3 linked regions of the Homo sapiens genome follow. The protein of the gene in region 3 interacts with the protein of the main gene of each other region in a pairwise test. Each region holds a gene or a part of one and is shown on either strand. Other genes may lie near its edges. The genes, in order: SFT2D1, DGAT2L6 and TMEM255B.

Region 1 (7,117 bases), on a different chromosome or scaffold from region 3:
ATTGGTGGTAAAAGAAAGCAGCACATAAATGCTTATGATAAGCAGGCTGGGTGCAGTGGCTCGTGGCTCATGCCTGTAATCCAGCACTTTGGGAGACCGAGGCGGGTGATCACTTGAGGTCAGGAGTTTGAGACCAGCCTGGCCAACATAGTGAAACCCCGTTTCTACTAAAAATACAAAAAATTAGTCAGGCCTGGTGGCGTGGACCTGTAGTCCCAGCTAATTGGGAGACTGAGGTAGGAGAATCACTTGAACCTGGGAGGCGGAGGTTGCATTGAGCTGAGATGGCGCCTGAGCAACAGAGTGAGACTCTGTCTCAAAAAAATGCTTGTGATAAGCAGACGTCAGGGTTCCTTCTGTCTCCTAGTTGGAAGATGCACTGCCAGGTTTTCTTTCATGTTGAAGCATATCACAGTTTTCCCAATTAGGAGTCAGGAAATCTGTATAGTTGTTTCGTATCCTAGACAATTTGCAAGACTTGAGACAAATCATTTGCTTGTGGATTGAATATTCCATGTTTACAAGTGGAAATAATTTGTCCTGCTGTTTCGTTTTAAAGATCAATACACGGAAGATGGCAATAGGAGGAAAAAATACCTACTATTATACAAATAGCCGTGCTGTTTCCTTGCTGAGAGAAAAACTGGCTATTGAAAAGCAGCGATTGAACTTGTGAACAATGGGGTGATTTGAACTTGGAAAAGAAGGAAAAATGGATGCTTTTTCCTCTCACTAAATCCTCACAGCATTGTGGACTCACACGAACCTTTAGAAATCATTATTCTTTCCATTTTTAATTGACAAATAAAAGTTATATACATTTATTGTGTACAGCGTGATGTTTTGACCTATGTATACTTTGTGGGATGGTTAAATGAAGCTGATGGGCGTGTCTCCATTTTTTTTAACAGATCATTTACTATGTAATTCAGTCTTTGCAGTTTATTCTGGCCTGCGTAGTTAAAATATACTTAGTGTATATTCTTCCTGATCAGTAAGAATGAAATGTAGATGTTTTTATAGGCAATTTCACTCTTTGTTTAAAACCAAGTGTTTAGTTTTGCCATAAACAGATGACATTGCTGGAAACAAGAATGTGAATTAAAACTTAAAAAACATTTAAAATGTGTTAAAGAGTGATATATGTTTCATTACAGAATACTTAGTTATTTTTATCTGCTTTTCATGCTACATAAGGATTCACAGATTAATCTCTTGAGGTAAGGAATGTAACCAAATGTATTTTGAACTGTTGCATATAGAACTTTCTCTTATTTTTCATTATTCTTGAAAATATAAGCATGTAGTCTTATTTTTAAGTGGATGTGGTAGTATAAATTAGAAATTTAAGTTTTGGAATATAAATCCTTGCTGTATATTTCTAGTTTCTTGCACAGCTGCTGTTGATAGATACTTTTTTAGCCTTATTTGGAAAATATATTTTAATAGTATAATTAGTAATCTGAGTGTGTTTATTTCACCACTACTGTGTGCTGGGTTATCATACTGTACAAAGTAGACTTAGTAATTTCTACTTTTTTCCCCACATAATTTGGCTAGAATTTGCATGGTATATAGGAATGCTGTTGCTCTAGAATAAATGATCATTTCACAGTATGTTTTTACAGTGGTGGAGGAGGGGCCCAAAACTTTCATGGGTTGGACTGAAAGAGCTTAGAACGGGTACCGTCTGGTGCGTGCTGTGATCGTCTCTGCTGGGGCTGCTCAGGCTGCCTCCTGTAGGTGGCCAGCGTCCTCTACCCTCCATGGGGTGCAGTCACCCCACCCCACCCCTGGCCTGCAGCCAATGACCGGCCGAAGGGAGGTGGCGTGTGGAAGGCCAGCCTCTGCCTCCAGCAGGACTTGCACTGAGTGCGGATGCACTCGGATGCACTCAGACTCTGGCATCTAGGAGCCTGAGGAATTCGTCCTGCAGAGGCAGAGAGAACAGATAATGAACCTGTGTACTCTTTCCCAGCCTCTGCAGTTTCAGTGTTTTGCCTGGCCTGTTGCATCTGCCCCCTGTGTTTTTTTAATCTTTGTATATTTTATAATATATCTTATATGTCATTTTATCCATATCAGTGTATATCGGCTGTCCCTAACAGATAAGGACTTTTGTGAAACATATTATCAGACTTTGCAAAATTAATGGTTATTCCTCAGCATCATCTGCTACCCAGACCATGGTCATATTACCCTTAACAACCGTGGAATCTTAGTATTCTTGAATGACACTGTGATATGCAAAATAAATGATTCAGACTATGTGTTAAAACTTTGCTTTAATTTAGTATAAAGAATCAGATTGGTAGTGAATTAAGACTATATTCTAAATTTTCCCATTTTTTATTAAGGTCCTGGATGCCTCATCCCTTAGTTTCAACACCAGATTGAAATGGTTTGCCATCTGCTTCGTATGTGGCGTTTTCTTTTCTATTCTTGTGAGTTAAGGCTTTATATTGTTTAATAATTTTTATTTTGTATTAGACTAATAATTCCATTTAGTACCAAAAACTAATGTCCTTTACTAAATCCCTGTTAGACCATTTTGGTGGAAGGTATTTATTAAACTAAAATAAAGGGGTAGAGATCAATGAAAATACGTAGAAATTAGTATTTTGGGGAGTTTTGTGGATAGTTGAAATAATTTAAGAAAAATGTATCAATGTGTTAAAAGATCTGGAGAGTCAGTAATTTAGATGTTTATTACCTTTTCATACTTGGTATTTAGCATGAAAATTTAACTTAAATAGACTGAGATTTACTGGTAAGCACAAAGTTTTGTTATGGCTCATTTATATATGCTAGTGCAAATAGGAAGAAGATTCAAGTTAGTGTATAACATTGAAAATTAACTATTTTTTCTGTGTAATCAGACTAGACTGTCTACAAGCAGATTTGTATTTAAACATATTACATAATATTGGTATTGTATTACTGCAGTAGCACGTTTATATTTTAACCATTAAAATCATAAAATTATTTTAAAATAACTATAATATCTTAACTTAGGGAACTGGATTGCTGTGGCTTCCGGGCGGCATAAAGCTTTTTGCAGTGTTTTATACCCTCGGCAATCTTGCTGCGTTAGCCAGGTACGTTTGGCTTCTCAAAATATCTTGTTTGCTCTTGCTACCAAATTTACCTTTCTAATAAGCACTTTCCCAGTAGGATGTTTATGTAGTTCTGTACATACTGTGAATTCAGCCACAGGATTTACATTCATTAAATAAATATGTATTGACTGCTGCTGTATGCCGTCTCCCATAACAGACGGTATTAGTGCTAGGAATAGCCAGCCTTTGTGGGGCACTTAATGTGTGTCTGGGACTGTTCTAAGTGTTTTGTATGTATTATGACGAGCTTGTGAGGTAGGCAGTATTATCATCCCCGTTTATAACTGGAGATAATAGCACAGAGCAGGGGAGTCAGTGCTGCCCATGGCGATGAACCTAAATCATGGCTGAGGTGGGAATCCTGCAGGCAGTGGGAATCCGGAGGTGGGATCCCACCATGGCTGAGGTGGGAATCCGGAGCCCAGGCTTGGAGCTGCTGCACTCTAGGCTTTGTTCTTGTGGAGCTTACATTTTAATGAAGAAGATGTTCACATGATAAGCCAGAAAAAGATGGGATGGCATTGGTGCTGTGCAGAGAATTAAAACAGGGTGTGGCAGTAGTGACAGAGGGCTACTTTATATTGGGAGTATGAGAATCCCTCTTTGAGAATCTTTGTCGCATCTTTGGGTTGTTGTTTGTCTTAGCCCTTTTTATGCTGCAGTAACAGAATACTGTAGACTGGGCGACTTAGGAAGAATAGAAATTTTTCTCACAGTTGGAGGCCTGAAGTCCAAGGTTAAGGCACATCCATCCTGCTGATAGATGCATCCCCCAAGGGGAAGATCCCTGTGTCCTCCCAGGGCAGAAGAGGAAAGAGCAACCCCCAGGCAGCCTCTCCTCCAAGGGCCTTTGATCCCTTTCAAAGGGAGGAGTTCTCACAGCCTAGTCCGGTCTTCATACTAACACACTGAAGACACTTACATTTTGGAGAAGACACCTTCACACCATAGCATGTCTATTGGTATAGTTGTAAAGTTTCTTTATAAAGTTAAGGAAAAAAAAAATTTTAGTGAGAGATTTTAATTAAATAAAGCAACAGGGCTTCTTTTTTAAAAAAGTAGTTTATTTTTGCATAACCAGATAAATTAGTAGACCTGTACCTCAGTCACTTTATTTGTTTCAAATAGTACATGCTTTTTAATGGGACCTGTGAAGCAACTGAAGAAAATGTTTGAAGCAACAAGATTGCTTGCAACAATTGTTATGCTTGTAAGTAAATAATACATTTTTAAAACTTTTATTGAAGTATTCTTTGCACTGTTATTTTACGAATAATTGCCTGTTATGTATGTATACTTCTTTTTTTATTTTTATTTTTTTTTATTATTATACTTTAAGTTTCAGGGTTGTATGTATACTTCTTGTGTTGAATATAATAATTATATCCGGCCGGGCACGGTGGCTCACGTCTGTAATCCCAGCACTTTGGGGGGCCAAGGTGGGCGGATCACCTGATGGCAGGAGTTCAAGACCAGCCTGACCAATATAATGAAACCCCGTCTCTACTAAAAATACAAAAATTAGCCCGGTGAGGTGGCATGCACCTGTAATCCCAGCTACTTGGGAGGCTGAGACAGAATCACTTGAACCTGGGAGGTGGAGGTTGCAGTGAGCCAAGATCACACCATTGCACTCCAGACTGGCCAACAAGAGTGAAGCTCCATCTAAAAACCAAAAAAAAAATATATCCTATGTGGTTATAGAGTTCAGATGGTACAGTATTGTCTAAGACTACTGGCTGGGTAAAGCCTGCTTCTGCTGCGTATATGGCATGGTGTAGCTGCGTATTTAAATGGAGCCTAGAGCTGAGTGTGCTTTCATTTTTAAGCCCTGCTGATGGTTTCATGAGGGATTGTTAGTTTGTACCCTTTAGAGGGTGGGCATAGACACCCTCTATGCTGAGGGTGAGATTTAGCATCATTTGTCATCTGACTTTTGTCCCTTCTCTGTGTGCCAACTTGACAAATTCTAACAATATGGCTCCCGTAACAGTATCTTTAAAGGTGCCTTCCATTACATTGTGGGTTCTGTCCACAACTCTCAGGTCATCACTCTTATTATCTTGAGCCTGGGTGGCGGGTAGATGAGAGCTTACACTTTGGCTAGTAAGGTTGTTTCCATTCTCATACGTGCTGGGTGTTCAGCTGATCATCGTTTTGTGTATTGTGGGCAGGAGGGGGACCCAAATCTCTTCTGCATCCTGCCTCTGCCTCCTAACTCACCTGGTCTGTGTCTCTTGTGGATTTCTTTTGCCTTCAAGCATTTATGATATTTAAAGAATTTAAATGTTACCATTATAACTATTAACATTAGCTTTCCAAACACAGCTAACCTATGTTAATTTATAAGGAAATGTTTGTTAACTCTAATCTGCCTGGCAGTCTTCTCCCATCTCCTCACTAGAGTAAAAACTCATTTTTAGCTTTATTTATTATGTCTTTATTCAACTTCATAGTTTCTTACCACTTTTATAATCTCCAATTATTTTGAATTTCCTATAATAGCATATGTATCAACATATATATAAACATTTAACTTCAGATTACTAACAAAGTATATTTCACTGTTAGAATATAAGTAGTTTATATTCCACTAAGATTTTAGTTAGTTTTATTTAAGAAATCCTGGCACTTACCCCTCAAACTTTTTAGTAACATACTGTACCTTACAAAAACACACATGTTGAGAGAACGTGGGAACGTTTGAACATATAAGACGTCTCCCAAGGTGGAGCACTTTGCGTGGTTTGATTTGCTGCCCACGTAAGATCACGCCTAGTAATGGTGGTGAAGAGGCTGTGCCACATAGAGCCTTCCACATGCCAGCTTCTAGCTCAAGCCCATCACGGATGCACTCTACCTTATTCATTACAACAGCCCTTTAAAGCAGGTAGGTAGGAACTCTCCTCATTTTAAAGAGAAGACAACAGGTTTAGACGAGTCCACTGACTTCACCAAGGACCCTCAGATAGCAGGCGTCAGAGCTGGGATCTCTTTAGGTCTTTCCAACACCACACTGCCCACCTCTTGCATTCACTCCTGTGCCTGCTTGCTTTCATGGGGATGTGGAATGATCATCTTTCAGTTTACTTAACAGATTAAATTATTAGATGCTTCCAATTTGCCAAGGAATATTGCAGTCATAGACTTTAAAGTAAAATAATACTTACAGAAAATACAAGTAAAACTATTCAGCTGTATTCTTATTTTTGTTCTATAGTATATTCCCTATGTAAATGAATGCAGAATAGTTTATGCATTTTTATTAGGCTTTTGAAAGGATCTCAAACTTATAATCTACTCTTTCTTCCCCTGTAGTTGTGTTTCATATTTACCCTGTGTGCTGCTCTTTGGGTAAGTTATGTCAGCCCTACTGGCTTTCAGTTAACTGTGTGCCCCCCACCCCAGCTGACGTGTCATCACACCATTATCTTAAAATAGCTCATCTGTTTTTTTAAAACTCTCTAAAGATTAGGTGTTCCTAAAATTTGACATGTTACCATCCAGCTAGTTGCTAAAAATGCCATAGATTCTACTGTCTACAGCATAGAGGTAGTCAGTGAACACACATGTGCACACATGCTCACCCACCCAGCTGGTGGCTAAATGTGCCATAGATTCTACTGTCTGCAGCATAGAGGTAGTCAGTAAACACACATGTGCACACATGCTCACCTACCCAGCTGGTGGCTAAATGTGCCATAGATTCTGCTGTCTACAGCGTAGAGGTCATTAATAAACACACATGTGTGCCCGAGCTCACCTGCTTGTGGGCCTGGTTGGCAAATCTGACAGTGCCCGGTGTGGTGAAGGGCCCTGGCTCAGGGGCTGTGCTCTCCACCATGCTGCTGCAGGGGTGCGCTGTGAGTCTGCAGTGGTGAGGCAAGTGTGCTGCCGAGTAGCAAGGTGTAAAACCAATAGAGAGGGCCAGAAAACACAGATAGTAACAACAAAGAGAGGAACTGAAATCATTCTCCTACCCTGTGGAGAAGGTTAAC
Region 2 (4,839 bases), on a different chromosome or scaffold from region 3:
TCAGTTTGGCTTGGTCAGGCTCAGGGGTCTGCCTACTCTCCAGAAACCCCAGCCATTGGCTTCCCTTTGGCAGGTTACTCTTAGGGAGGAAGCAGGTTGGTGGTGGCTAGTCTCGATTACCCCTGGAGGAGAGAACTCTGGAGGATCTCCAGTGTTGTCAGGCTGGGCAGAGTGGAAGATGGCTGTGCTTCATGGGTAGAGAGGGATGAGGTGGGCTTAGATACTATTGATCTGAAATGCAGTAGGCTATGGATGGTAGGAGGCAGAGGAGCTCAGTATAGACCCAACTGCAGAAGCACAGACCCCCAAGGCAAACAGCTGACCCTAAGGACCAATCTTAGGCTAGGGCAGTCATAACCCGGGACACGAAGGTCAGAGACAGAAAGGTGGAAACAGCAATAGTCAGAAAACAGAAGAACTGTCTCCAAAAGGAAGAGCCTGGGAAAACCCCTTACCCCATCCTCAGGAATGAAGTTTTTCTACCACTTGACTCTTTGGTTTCACAGGTGTGTGCCCTGTGAGTAGCTCAGCCTTGAAGTACTTGCTGACCCAGAAAGGCTCAGGCAATGCCGTGGTTATTGTGGTGGGTGGAGCTGCTGAAGCTCTCTTGTGCCGACCAGGAGCCTCCACTCTCTTCCTCAAGCAGCGTAAAGGTTTTGTGAAGATGGCACTGCAAACAGGGTGGGTTCCAAGGTTCTAGTGCTCTGTTGTCAGGGTGCCATAGGCCCTCTGTAGCCCTCTCCAGAATGGTGCCCTCCCTGGGCACCTGTTAGAGGGCCCCCATCTTCACTCTAATTCCTTCTGTCTACCCCCTCACATTGTGCCTTAGGGATGTTTGGGCCTCCAGATACATTTCAGTGGGCACTTTTCTTACTTGAAGTTGGAGAAAGAACAGCAGAAGAAAACCTTTTACTTTCTGCCCATTGGCCTGGTAGGCTGGAGGTCTGGGAAAGCGGGGCTTCACTCTATATCAACCTGTTAACTGAGAGGCCCTAAGAATCTACCAACTGCAAGGGAGGCACTAGCTTTGATACCGTGAGGATCAAAAAGATAAGACATGACCCCAAAGAGCATACAATCTGGTTTGAGAAATAGACCTTATTCATTCAGCAGTTACGGAACACCCACTGTATATCAGGCATAGTACTAGGCATTTAGGATATAAAAGTAAATAAGACCTGGTCCTTGCAAACTCACAGTCCAATATGGAAGAAGACAGACCCATGCACATATAATTACCAAATACCTGCAGAATCCAACCACTTACTACCTAGGCTACCACCCCTTGGTTTACTACCACCATCTCTCCCCTTGGTTGATTACAACACTTCTAACTGCTCTTCCTGTATCTATTCCCACCTCCCCCACCCCAAGAGTCTATTCCCAGCTTCAGCCAGGATGATCCTGTTAAACATGAGTCAGATCATGTCACTTCTCAAAATAATCCAATGGCTCCCATGTCACTCAGAGTAAAAGCCAAAGTCTTTATAGGGGCTTGCAAGACGCGGAATAATCTGGTCTATAGCTGCCTCTCTGTCCTCATCACTCACTTCTCTTCCCACTCTCTCACTCCATCATAGCTATACCGGCCTCTTTGCGGTCCCTCAAGCAGGCCACCCGCTCCTGCTTTAGAGTCTTTGCTTTAGCGGTTCCCTTGGAACACTATTCCTCCAAATGACTGCTTGGCTCATTCCTTTATCTCCTTCAAGTCTTTGCTCAAATGTCTCTTCTCAATACAGTTATCTGACCATCTTGCTCTATTTTTTGCCGGTTACACTTATCTTCTTATAGCTCATCCATTTTATTTATTTGTTTACCAACTATTTTCAATGTTTATTGTCTGTCTTCCTCCCAGAAAAAGTAAACTCCACGAACACAGAATTTTTAAAAATCCATTGTATTCACTGATGCATCTCCAGGGCCTAAAACAGTGCTGGCACATAGAAAGAGCTTAATATTTGTTAAATAAATGGAACACTACAATGGAAATGTGTACAAAGTGCCACGTGAGCACCAATTTATGGAAAGATCTTGACCCAGAATAGAGGTTTCATAGGTGGGTAACATCTGAACTGTGAATTGAAATATTGGTAGGAGTTGCCAGGCAGACCAAAAGGGAGAAAGAACTCAGGCATTCAGTGAGGACCTATGGCATGTCAAGTGCTATGCCAGGGCCTAGGGATTCAAAGATGAATATGACCCAGTTCTTGCCTTTGATTGGCTTGCTGTCTACTGGGGGAGTCAGGCAAGTAAGGAGATGACTATAATACACGGTTGGGGCAGCGTTAGTGTAGAAGAGAGGTAAGCACTAGATGAGGGGTACCTAATCCGCGTTGGGGGAAATGAAGTGGTCAAACAAAGTTGCTTTAAGGGGATGAGATTGGGACTGAGTGCAAAATTGAATGAGCCACATAAAGACAGAGGGAAGAAGGAAGATACTTCCGACAGAGGGAGCAGAATGTACAAAGACACAGAGATGAGAGAGTATGAGGCACACTTAATATGGCTAAGCAGATTGCAAGGAAAGAGTGGGGAAAGGGAAAGCTAGCCAAGGAGGGAAGGCTAGAGCAAAAAGGCCGTAAGGAAGCAGCATGGTGCAAACTGAGGAGCTCTGGAAGAGTTTGAGAGGAGTGGCATGTCCAGATATGCAGTTTACGAAGAACACTCTGCATGCTGGATGCAATGAAGACAGAGCTTTTGAGATTAGTTTCTCCCTATAACAGGACAAGGCAGAGCAGCAGCTCCCTTCAGAGTTCAGTTGGGAGAGTGAGGCATGGCAGGAATGGGACATGAAGATGGAGATGTTTGGGTGCTTGGGTTCTTGTCCTATAATGGGGAGGTTGGAGAGGTTTCCCACCTTGGAGAGGATTTTTCCGGGGATCTTCCTCAGAGAGCTCACACTCCTGCCCCTCTCTTTGCAGGGCATACCTTGTCCCTTCATATTCCTTTGGTGAGAACGAAGTTTTCAATCAGGAGACCTTCCCTGAGGGCACGTGGTTAAGGTTGTTCCAAAAAACCTTCCAGGACACATTCAAAAAAATCCTGGGACTAAATTTCTGTACCTTCCATGGCCGGGGCTTCACTCGCGGATCCTGGGGCTTCCTGCCTTTCAATCGGCCCATTACCACTGTTGGTGAGCTTTCCCTTATCTCCGGATGACCTGTTTCTTCATTCACTTCCCACCCACTTTAAATCATCCATCAAGTCCAGGGGGACCCAACTCACATCTGGGATGGGCAATGGGTGTGGTTAAGAGCAGGGTGGGTAGGACAACTAAACAGATAAGAGTTGTGGCCATTCATGGATGTGACATCAGCATCTGCTACAAGAGCATCACCATTCGCACACATTCTGTCACCACTCTCCTGAGCTTGCTTGCATTCTCTTGAGCATGGGTTTGATTAGATGATCAGAGAACAGGGGCCAGGATGAGACTGGAGCAAAGGGAAAGAAAGAAAGAAGGGGAGGAAAGCCAGATACTGAGTTTCAGTACATGGCTCCCAGTGAGGGATGAGTAGTTTGAGTTGAGGGGGGAACTCTGATGTTTGTCTCTTTTCTTTTTTCATAGTTGGGGAACCCCTTCCAATTCCCAGGATTAAGAGGCCAAACCAGAAGACAGTAGACAAGTATCACGCACTCTACATCAGTGCCCTGCGCAAGCTCTTTGACCAACACAAAGTTGAATATGGCCTCCCTGAGACCCAAGAGCTGACAATTACATAACAGGAGCCACATTCCCCATTGATCAACCCCCAAAGCCATGAGGGATCCAAGTAGAGCCACAGAAAAAGAAGAATTCCAGGAGAGGGAAAGATCGTAAGGATGAGAGAGGAGACCATCCAAGCCAGAAATTATTTAATAAATCAGAGTTCTAGCAATAGAGTCCTCTCCCAAGTGGCTGAGGCAGGCTTAGGGGAAAGAACCAGAGGGGCAGGGGAGGACTGGGGAGGGCTGGCTAGCCAGAGGAGTTGGCTGTATCACCCCTGGTTATTTTAGGGCAACAACCCAGTTGGGGAGTCTTATGAATCATTCCAGCCAACTCTCTGATCACAAAGAATACTGTGCCCCTTTCTCCTAAACCTTAGTTCACCATCACTACGTAGGTTTAGACTTAGAAGCTTTATTTGGAACAGGGATAGTTTGTTTCCTCTTGGTCCTTTCCTTACAACTTGGGAACTGCCACAAGGTAAACCAGGGACCTGAACTGTAGCTGCCTGGTCCAAGCAGACAGGATTCCGTCAGTTGTGATAGAGTTCTAGATTGGCAATGCAGTTACATTGTTTCTTCTTTGAAAATAAAGTTCTAGACATATAAAACAGGATACCACTATTTCCTGATTATTCTGTGGTTCGCTATTGGGCTTCCCTCAAACCTAAGATTTTCCCTTCTGGCCAGAAAGCTGCTCTATGGAGAGCCCTTTTCCTCTTCTTTATTTACCCTTCATACTTCCCCGGACAGAAAAGGTGGGGGAATGGAACCATAGCTGCTGCAAAGTGTAAGAGACAGGAGCAGAAACATGGGAACTGGCACAGGTACCCGCTGTGTAGCCCACCTCTCCTGATCCCACATAACCATCCTATGTCAGAAGGGAGGGAGCCACAAGACCATGCACCAACTGTAAGTTTGCTTGATGTCAAGTCCCTTCTATGTTCCAGGGACCATGACATTGCTTTCATAACCATTGTCTCTCAATACTAAACATAAGCCCAGTGAGATTGAGATTGTCATCACCTCCATTTCACAGTAGCTAAAGCTCCTAGAGGGTTAGTAGCTTGCCCAAAGCCACACAACTTTGGATAGAACTAGCATTCAAACCAGAGTTCTCTCCAATGCACCACT
Region 3 (7,627 bases):
CACAGTTGTAGTAACCGGAATGACCTCCAAGGACCTGTCCCACTGTAAAGATTGGCAATCCTATGACTTCTGTCTCCTGGACTCCTCCCAAGCCTGAATCCCTTCCCGGACGCTCACAGGTCGCAGCGTATCTTGGGTAACCCCATCCACTGCCCCCATCAAGCCAGCCCCCGACCTGTCTCCTGTTTCCCGGAGCTTGCTCAGAGATAACAGATTCATCCGATCCTCCAGGAAGGGCCCGAGCGGCCTGGCTCCCTGCCCTCCAGCTCTTAGCTCTGTGTGTCTCTCCTTGCGGGAGCCCTCCCTGCGACACCTCCCGCTGCCTCTCAGCGCTGAGCTTAACACGGTGGCATCACCTGGGAGGGCTCAGTCTTTCTGTCTCTTCTCCATCAGCCTCTGAGCTCCATCAGGGCCCCAGGTCAGTGATCACTCCTGTGCTTCCACAGCCCAGCGCCAAGCCCAGCCCTGCTCTGGGCCTGGACAATGCTCAGGACAGGACAGTGTGGGAGTCAGCCCCTGGCCCTGACCCTGGCTCTCGGAGCCAGCGCTGTTGCTTCCCTACCTCACTGGATGTTGCAGGAATGGGTTAGAGATCTGAGGACCACGGAAAGTTAGGGGTGAGGGGAGGATGAACCAGTCATGGGGAACCCCGGTATCTCTGAGTGAGTAGAGAAGGAAGGTGGTGCTGGCGGGAAGGAAGGACAGGTGCTGGCTGTGGGTTCCAGCCACTTCCGAGGTGCAGGCCTGGGGAGAGGAGGCAGGTGGGGCCTGCTCAGGGAGCCCCTGAAGAAGTTCTGAGTTGGCTGTGCTCCAGTTGGCCCCTGCACATTCCCCATGCCAGGCAGGCGCTTTTTCTCCTCTTTAAAAAGGCATTCCCTGAGCCTGGTGGAATGAGACAAACATGGAAATCCCTGGGCTGCTCTCAGTGGTGGAAGAGGTTGGGCACCCTGGCGGCTTAGGGTGGGACTCGGCCTGCAGAGCCAAGCAGGCGCCCTTTTTCCTCCTTTTCTTTTCCTTTCGTCCATTTAATTTTTAAAATATAACAGACTGTGGCCGGGCACAGTAGCTCTCGTCTGTAATCCCAGCACTTTGGGAGGCCCAGATGGGAGGATCACTTGAGCCCAGGGGTTTGACATCAGCCTGGGCAACATGAGGAAACCCCATCTCTACAAAAAGTATAAACCTTAGCTGGGTGTTGCAGCACACGCCTGTGGTCCTAGCTACTTGGGAGGCTGAGGTGAGAGGATCGCTTGAGCCTGGGAGGTGGAGACTGCAGTAAGCTATGATCATGCCACTGCACTCCAGCCTGGGCCACAGAGCCACAGCATGTCTCAAAAAACAAAAAAGTGACAGACTGCAAACAAAGGCACACCTGGGTAGAGGATGCACAGGAGCTCCTTGCACTATCCCTGCAAACCACCTTTAGGTTTGAAAATAGATAAAAATAAAAAGTTACAAAAAAGTAATCATCTATTTTAAACATCCAGAAAAGTATAGAGAATAATATAACATCCCTGTCCACACCATCTAGCCTTAATGGTATCTCAACATTCCCCCTTTTTTTACAAGTCTTTTAACTTTTTTAAAGAAAGAAGATTTCACAAATAGAGTTTAAGCCCCTAGACATAGTTCCAAAGCTGTTCAGCTTGTCCACCCAGACAGAGAATCACAGTTCTGGATGAAGCATGCACTCTCCCCCAGCATGTTCTTCTACTTTACTTACACAGTATCCATGCATCTACACACATGACTCACGGTGTCCATGTATCTGCACACACATGACTCATGGTGTCCATGTATCTGCACACACAAGGCGGTGTCCATGTATCTGCACACGAGACTCACGTCCGTGTATCTGCACACATGAGTCACGGTGTCCATGTATCTGCACACACGAGACGGTGTCCATGTATCTGCACACGAGACTCACGTCCGTGTATCTGCACACATGACTCAACGTGTCCGTGTATCTGCACACAGGACTCACGGTGTCCGTGTATCTGCACACAGGACTCACGGTGTCCGTGTATCTGCAAACATGACTCATGGTGTCCGTGTAATCACCTCCTACTGTTTCATCATATCCTATAACCAGTTTCTCAGCTTCCATTCTGCTATCCTACAACTACTCTCCAGTAATCCTATGTGTAGGACCCTCCAATAACCCCCACATCACTCGGAGCAAAGGCCAGAGGCCCTGCGGCTCACCCCTGATGTCCTCCACCTGGTCCCCACAAGCCTCTGGCACCCTGGTCTCCTTGCTGCTCCCCCTGGGCCTGGATGGCTCCACCCCAGGGCCTTTGCATGGAGGTTCCTTTTCCTCAGACCCTCTGCCCCAGATGTCTGGGTGAGCAACCACCTCCACGCCCTCAAGCTTGGTCTTCAACATCACCTGTCAACAAGCTCTCTTTTCACTACTTAAAAACCACAGCTCCCTCCCTCTCCCACACTATACTTTCTATTTTGTTTCTTTACCTCTCTTTCCTTTTTCTGTGGCCTGCATTACCTGGCTGTGTATGTATGTATGTGTGTATGTGTGTGTATGTATAAGTGTGTATGTGTGTGTATGTGCATGTGTGTGCATGTATGTGTGCATGTGTATGTGTGTGCATGTGTGTATGCATGCATGTGTGTATGTATATGTGCATATGTGCATGTATGCACGTATAAGTGTGTATGTATGCATGTGTGTATGTATGTGTATGTATGTGTGCGTGTATGTATGCACACATGTATGCATGTGTGTATGTGCATGTATGTATGCGTGCATGTATGTATGCACACATGCATGCATGTGTGTATGTATGCATGTGTATATATGCATGTGTGTGTATGTGTGTATGTGCATGCATGTGTGTATGTCTGCATGTGTGTATGTGTATATGTGTGTGTGTATTCCATAGCATGTTGCCCTCTGACATGCTGTGCATTTTTCTTGTTTATTGTATTATTATTCATGGCCTCACTTCCCCACCAGGATCCTTGTTTACGTTGCTCATTGATACATCCCAAGTACCTGGAACAGTGTCTGGTATATCGCGGATGTTTAGTAAGTCTTGAGAGGCTCACTGAGTGAACAGTGTTAATTTTCATGGTTTAAAACTTTATATAAATGGTACCATACTCGCTGCCGTACTTGCTGTCGTACTCGCTGCCGTACTGTGCACTTGCATTTTTGCTCCGCGTTCTGTTTTTGGCATTTATCCACATTGATCCATGTAGCTCTCATTTATTTTAACTGCCATGTGGTATTTCGCTGTATATGCCCATTTCTTTATCGCTTCTCCCCGTGTTGGATATTCAGGGTGTGTCCGGTGCTTTGGACACACAGTGTTGTGAGGAATATTCTGTACGCATCTTCTAGCACATGCATACTTCTTGTGGTAGTTTCTCTCTCACAGTGGATGGCCTATTAGAATGACTAGGGAATTCTTAGCTATTAGTTTGTTCCCAGAAGTTCTGGTTCAATTGATCTGGTCTGGGTTCAGTGCTGCAGAAATGTTTTTTCTTTTAAAGACATTCCTGGATGACTTTAACGACAGCCGGGGTTGAGAACCACGGCTCCTGGCTCGAAGGAGCAGATCTATGTTTGTGTTCTTGGGCATATCTAGAAAGAGATATGCTTTCTTTCTGGCTTGTCATCTACTTGCTTCAATTTTCCTAAAGGTTGCTTTCAAAGTGGTGGCACCATGCGTGATCCCAGCGGTGAATGCAGATTCCCACGTTTTCATTAACATTCTTTAAGTTGTTTGACCCTTGGGGTTTTCTGATAGGATGAGGGTGAAACGCATCCTCTTGTTCCCACAGCGTTCCCCTAATTCCGGGGGCTGAGTTTATTGATCGTTCAAGCATCTTCTTTTGTGACGGGACCGCTGATGTCCTTGACTCAAAGATGTTAAAAATACGTTTAGAAGGATCTTTATTTTTTCCTGCTGCTGTACGAGGCACCCTTTCTGGCCCCGTGTTTCCTTGCCCTTCTTTCCAGCAGCAGATTTTACTCAGAACAACTTCAGTGCTGTGGACACAAAGACGCAGGCCTTGGAGAGGCGGGTCAGCCCTGCCTCGGGGCTGCTGAGTGAGGTGCCAGATGCGTTTGTTCCTCATTTACTCATTTGCGTTTGTTCCTCATTTACTCGTTCCTCGCAGACTGGGTTGTAACACCATGTACCACCCTCTGAACCCAGAGATCAAGGGCTGGCTGGCCCTGTAGCCCCAAGGAGCTCCGTCACCGGCCAATGGGGAGGCGAACCCGTGGTGACCCACTCAGCGGCACCGCCAAGGGCTGAGCGTGGCGCCAGCGGCGGAAGGCCCGGGGTCACCGTCCCAGGCCGGGGCTCCGACCCCGAGTCCGCAGGGTCCTCTCCAGGCACCTTCCATCTGGGGTCTGGCTTCCACTCCCGGCCGCGGCGTCCTGATTTCCAGAAACCAGGCGGCCGCTGGAGGGGAGAAGGGGGAGCGGGCGCAGCGGGGGAGGGAGGAGAAGAAACGCCGGAGAAGGGAGAGTAGAGCGAGGAAGGACGCGAGGCGGGCGGAGCGCGGGGAGGTGCAGGGGGCGGGGAAGGGGCGGCGCCGCGAGGGCGGCTCCTGGCGGCGGGACTGTGGCTGTGGCCCCGGGAGAGCCGGGTGGGGCCTCGGGATGCAGCCGCCGGTGCCCGGGCCCCTGGGCCTGCTGGACCCCGCAGGTGAGCGCGGGGCTGGGGGCTCGTCTCGGCTCCTGCGGGGGAGCGTGGGGACCCCGGGGCTGGGACTACAGGTCCCCGGCCGGCCCGGGCGGAACCTGCGCGGAGACGCGGCACGGGGTCTGGTCCCTCCGCCTCCTTCGAGCTCTGTCTTTGGAACACTTTGCATTTCGCACTGGGGTCGGGCGTTCGTCCTACCGGTTCGTTCATTCATTCTCTCTCCCTGTCTCTCTCTCTGTCTCTGTCTCTGTCTCTCTCGCTCTTTCTGTCTCTGCCTCCTCAGTCTTTGCCTTTCTCTGACTCTGTGTCCGTTCCTCTTGGCCTCTCTCTCCCTGTTACGTTTTATTATGAGGAACAGGCGCCCCAAAGTGCGCTCCTTCCCCATCTCTTCCGTTTATTCCAACCTACACCATTTTCCGGGAAAACTTCGTTTGGAAGAGCGAGGTAGCCTTTTCCTGTTTGAACGTGCAGAGGCGCTCACAGAACTGGACAGTGTTGCTTGGTTTCGGCTCGCCCCTCTCTCGTGTTTCTCCCCGGTGTGTTCACGGAATCTCCAATTCTTCCACTTCCCAGACCAAGCCCGCTGCAGCCTCGGAGCCAGGCAAAGGCTGGGAAAACAGGAAACCTGTTGCGTGTTCACCAGTTCGCAAGCCGGGCTCGGGGGCTCTGCCGGGAAGTGGCCAGGACTGGAAGGATGCCGGGTGTCTTCCTGAGGGGGAGAGGGCTGGGCAGATTTCAGAACAAAAGAGAAACAGAGTTCCCTAGAAAGTGAAGCCCTGACGGCTGGAGGGAGGGATGGAGTGGTGTCTAGGGGGCTCTGCCGCTCCCTCAGAAATAATCCAACACAAACTTCTGGGGATTAACCTCACAACCCTTTTACTGCGGCATCGTTCGGAACCGGACGAATTACTGTTACTTAAAATAATCAAATAATTTGGCTTCTTTCTAAAAGAAACCACTATATGCCTTCCAATCTAAAGCAAAATGCTCTATGGTCAAATGTATTAATGTGGATTAGTCTATTGGTGTTTAATAATGATAACTATTATTATTATTTATTAACTAGTTTTATCATTATTAGAATGCCTTAATGTTTAAAAATAGCATCTGACTTAGATTTTCTTCTGACAAAGAACTTTAAACCTTAAAACAATACTTGGAGCTGGTCTTTTTAGTATATGAAACATTGGTGTATCTGGGTAGGATTATGGGTCTTTTTGTTTGGAGCTGGTCTTTTACTAAAATGTATAAAGCATTGGTGTGTCTGGGGTTGGATTATGGTCTTTCTGCTTTGGTGTGTCGGGGTGGATTATGGTCTTTCTGCTTTGGGGTATCTGGGGGTGGGTTATGGTCTTTCTGCTTTGGGGTATCTGGGGGTGGATTATGGTCTTTCTGCTTTGGGGTATCTGGGGGTGGATTATGGTCTTTCTGCTTTGGTGTGTCTGGGGGTGGATTATGGTCTTTCTGCTTTGGGGTATCGGGGGTGGGTTATGGTCTTTCTGCTTTGGGGTATCTGGGGGTGGATTATGGTCTTTCTGCTTTGGTGTGCCTGGGGGTGGATTATGGTCTTTCTGCTTTGGTGTGTCTGGGGGTGGGTTATGGTCTTTCTGCTTTGGTGTGTCTGGAGGTAGATTGTGGGTTTTTCTGCTTTGGGGTATCTGGGGGTGGACCATAGTCTTTCTGCTTTGGGGTACCTGGGGGTAGGATTATGGGTTTTTCTGCTTTGCCCTTCTTTGTTCACTACCCTGGGCATGTGTAAAATCAGGACGAAAGAGGAATTGACGGCTGAGTGATTACAGTTTTACCTGGGATTGTTACTTGGACACCATGACTGGTGTCCCCACATGATTAAATGGAACTCACTCTTCTTTTTGGGCGTTCCAGGTCCGGCTGGCAGGAAGGCCGGATCTTAGAACCCTTCCAAGCAGTGCCACCTCCCATGCTTTGTGACATTCCCCTTCCTGGCTCTGTGGAGTAGAGGAAATGGGTCTGAGGGGCAGGAAGAACCTGACCTCCAGCCTCGCGTGTCTTCCAGGTAGGACCTGGCGTGGGCACAGGCTCATGTGGTTCAGCTCCTCCAGCTAAGGCTGGGGAAGGAGCCAGGAAGGGGAGAGCAGGTGGGATGGGAGAAGTGGGGGCTGGTGGGGAGTGACAAGGTGATATTCTGAGATATCCTAGATGGGCTGCACCTGGGGAAGACTAGAATTAGAAAAATCAGCGCACTTGATAGCAGAGAGGTAGCTGTTGGCCCCTTCAGCTTCACATCTCAGAACTCCTCCTTGCAACTCCAGTGGGAGAAATGCTGGTTAAGAATAGCCGCTACGCCGTCTTAAAGTTCACACCACCCTGATGATTAGCATATGCATTCCATTTACAAAAACCTATATGAGAGCCCACGTATCGTGTCTCACTGGACGCTTATCACAATCTCAAGAGGTGGGTGAGCAGGTGGTTCTCATGATTTCCATCCTACAGGTCAGGAGACTGAAGTGCCTTCATTCATTCCGTACCAGGAGATGTGTCTATGTCCTCATCTGAGCCCCGGGAACCGGCGACAAACAAGAGACAGAGCTCTTGGCTCTCATAGGGTTCTCTTCTCCCAGGCTCAGGGAGATTAAATGGCCGCCCAAGACCACACAATGGGTCTGGACAGACCCAGAATGGTTTGGGTCCAGTCCCTGTAAGCTGCCTCTGCAATAGAAACCTATTGGTAGATATTTTAATTAATAGTTGGGGCACTTAGGAGCACTTTAATTTTCACAGTGCGTGTAATAACAGTATTTCCGGGACAGGAAAAAAAAAAAAATCAAGGAAATTATTCAGGTGATTTTAATTATCTTTCTCCTAAGTGAAAGCCCCTTTCTCTTGAAAATCTGACCTTATAATTATCTCTTATGCTAATTATAAAGATATCCCACCTTCTTTTCTTGAGTTTATTTTTTTTCTCA

The links.
Region 1: the proteins of TMEM255B (region 3) and SFT2D1 interact in binary tests that used the Homo sapiens proteins (3 or more experiments, as listed by UniProt).
Region 2: the proteins of TMEM255B (region 3) and DGAT2L6 interact in binary tests that used the Homo sapiens proteins (3 or more experiments, as listed by UniProt).

Annotation. Positions count from the first base shown.
Region 1 is NC_000006.12:166,325,488-166,332,604, reverse strand, and holds part of SFT2D1 (vesicle transport protein SFT2A), read left to right. Parts: intron 1-1,197; exon of another isoform or gene 1,198-1,220; intron 1,221-2,357; coding exon 2,358-2,444; intron 2,445-3,015; coding exon 3,016-3,098; intron 3,099-4,247; coding exon 4,248-4,329; intron 4,330-6,437; coding exon 6,438-6,473; intron 6,474-7,117. UniProt on the Homo sapiens protein: May be involved in fusion of retrograde transport vesicles derived from an endocytic compartment with the Golgi complex.
Region 2 is NC_000023.11:70,201,384-70,206,222, forward strand, and holds the end of DGAT2L6 (diacylglycerol O-acyltransferase 2-like protein 6), read left to right. Parts: intron 1-506; coding exon 507-681; intron 682-2,921; coding exon 2,922-3,133; intron 3,134-3,568; coding exon 3,569-3,723; 3' UTR 3,724-4,321; downstream 4,322-4,839. UniProt on the Homo sapiens protein: Diglyceride acyltransferase that uses fatty acyl-CoA as substrate. Particularly active with oleate as a substrate. Has no wax synthase activity to produce wax esters.
Region 3 is NC_000013.11:113,754,634-113,762,260, forward strand, and holds the start of TMEM255B (transmembrane protein 255B), read left to right. Parts: upstream 1-4,592; 5' UTR 4,593-4,636; coding exon 4,637-4,682; intron 4,683-7,627.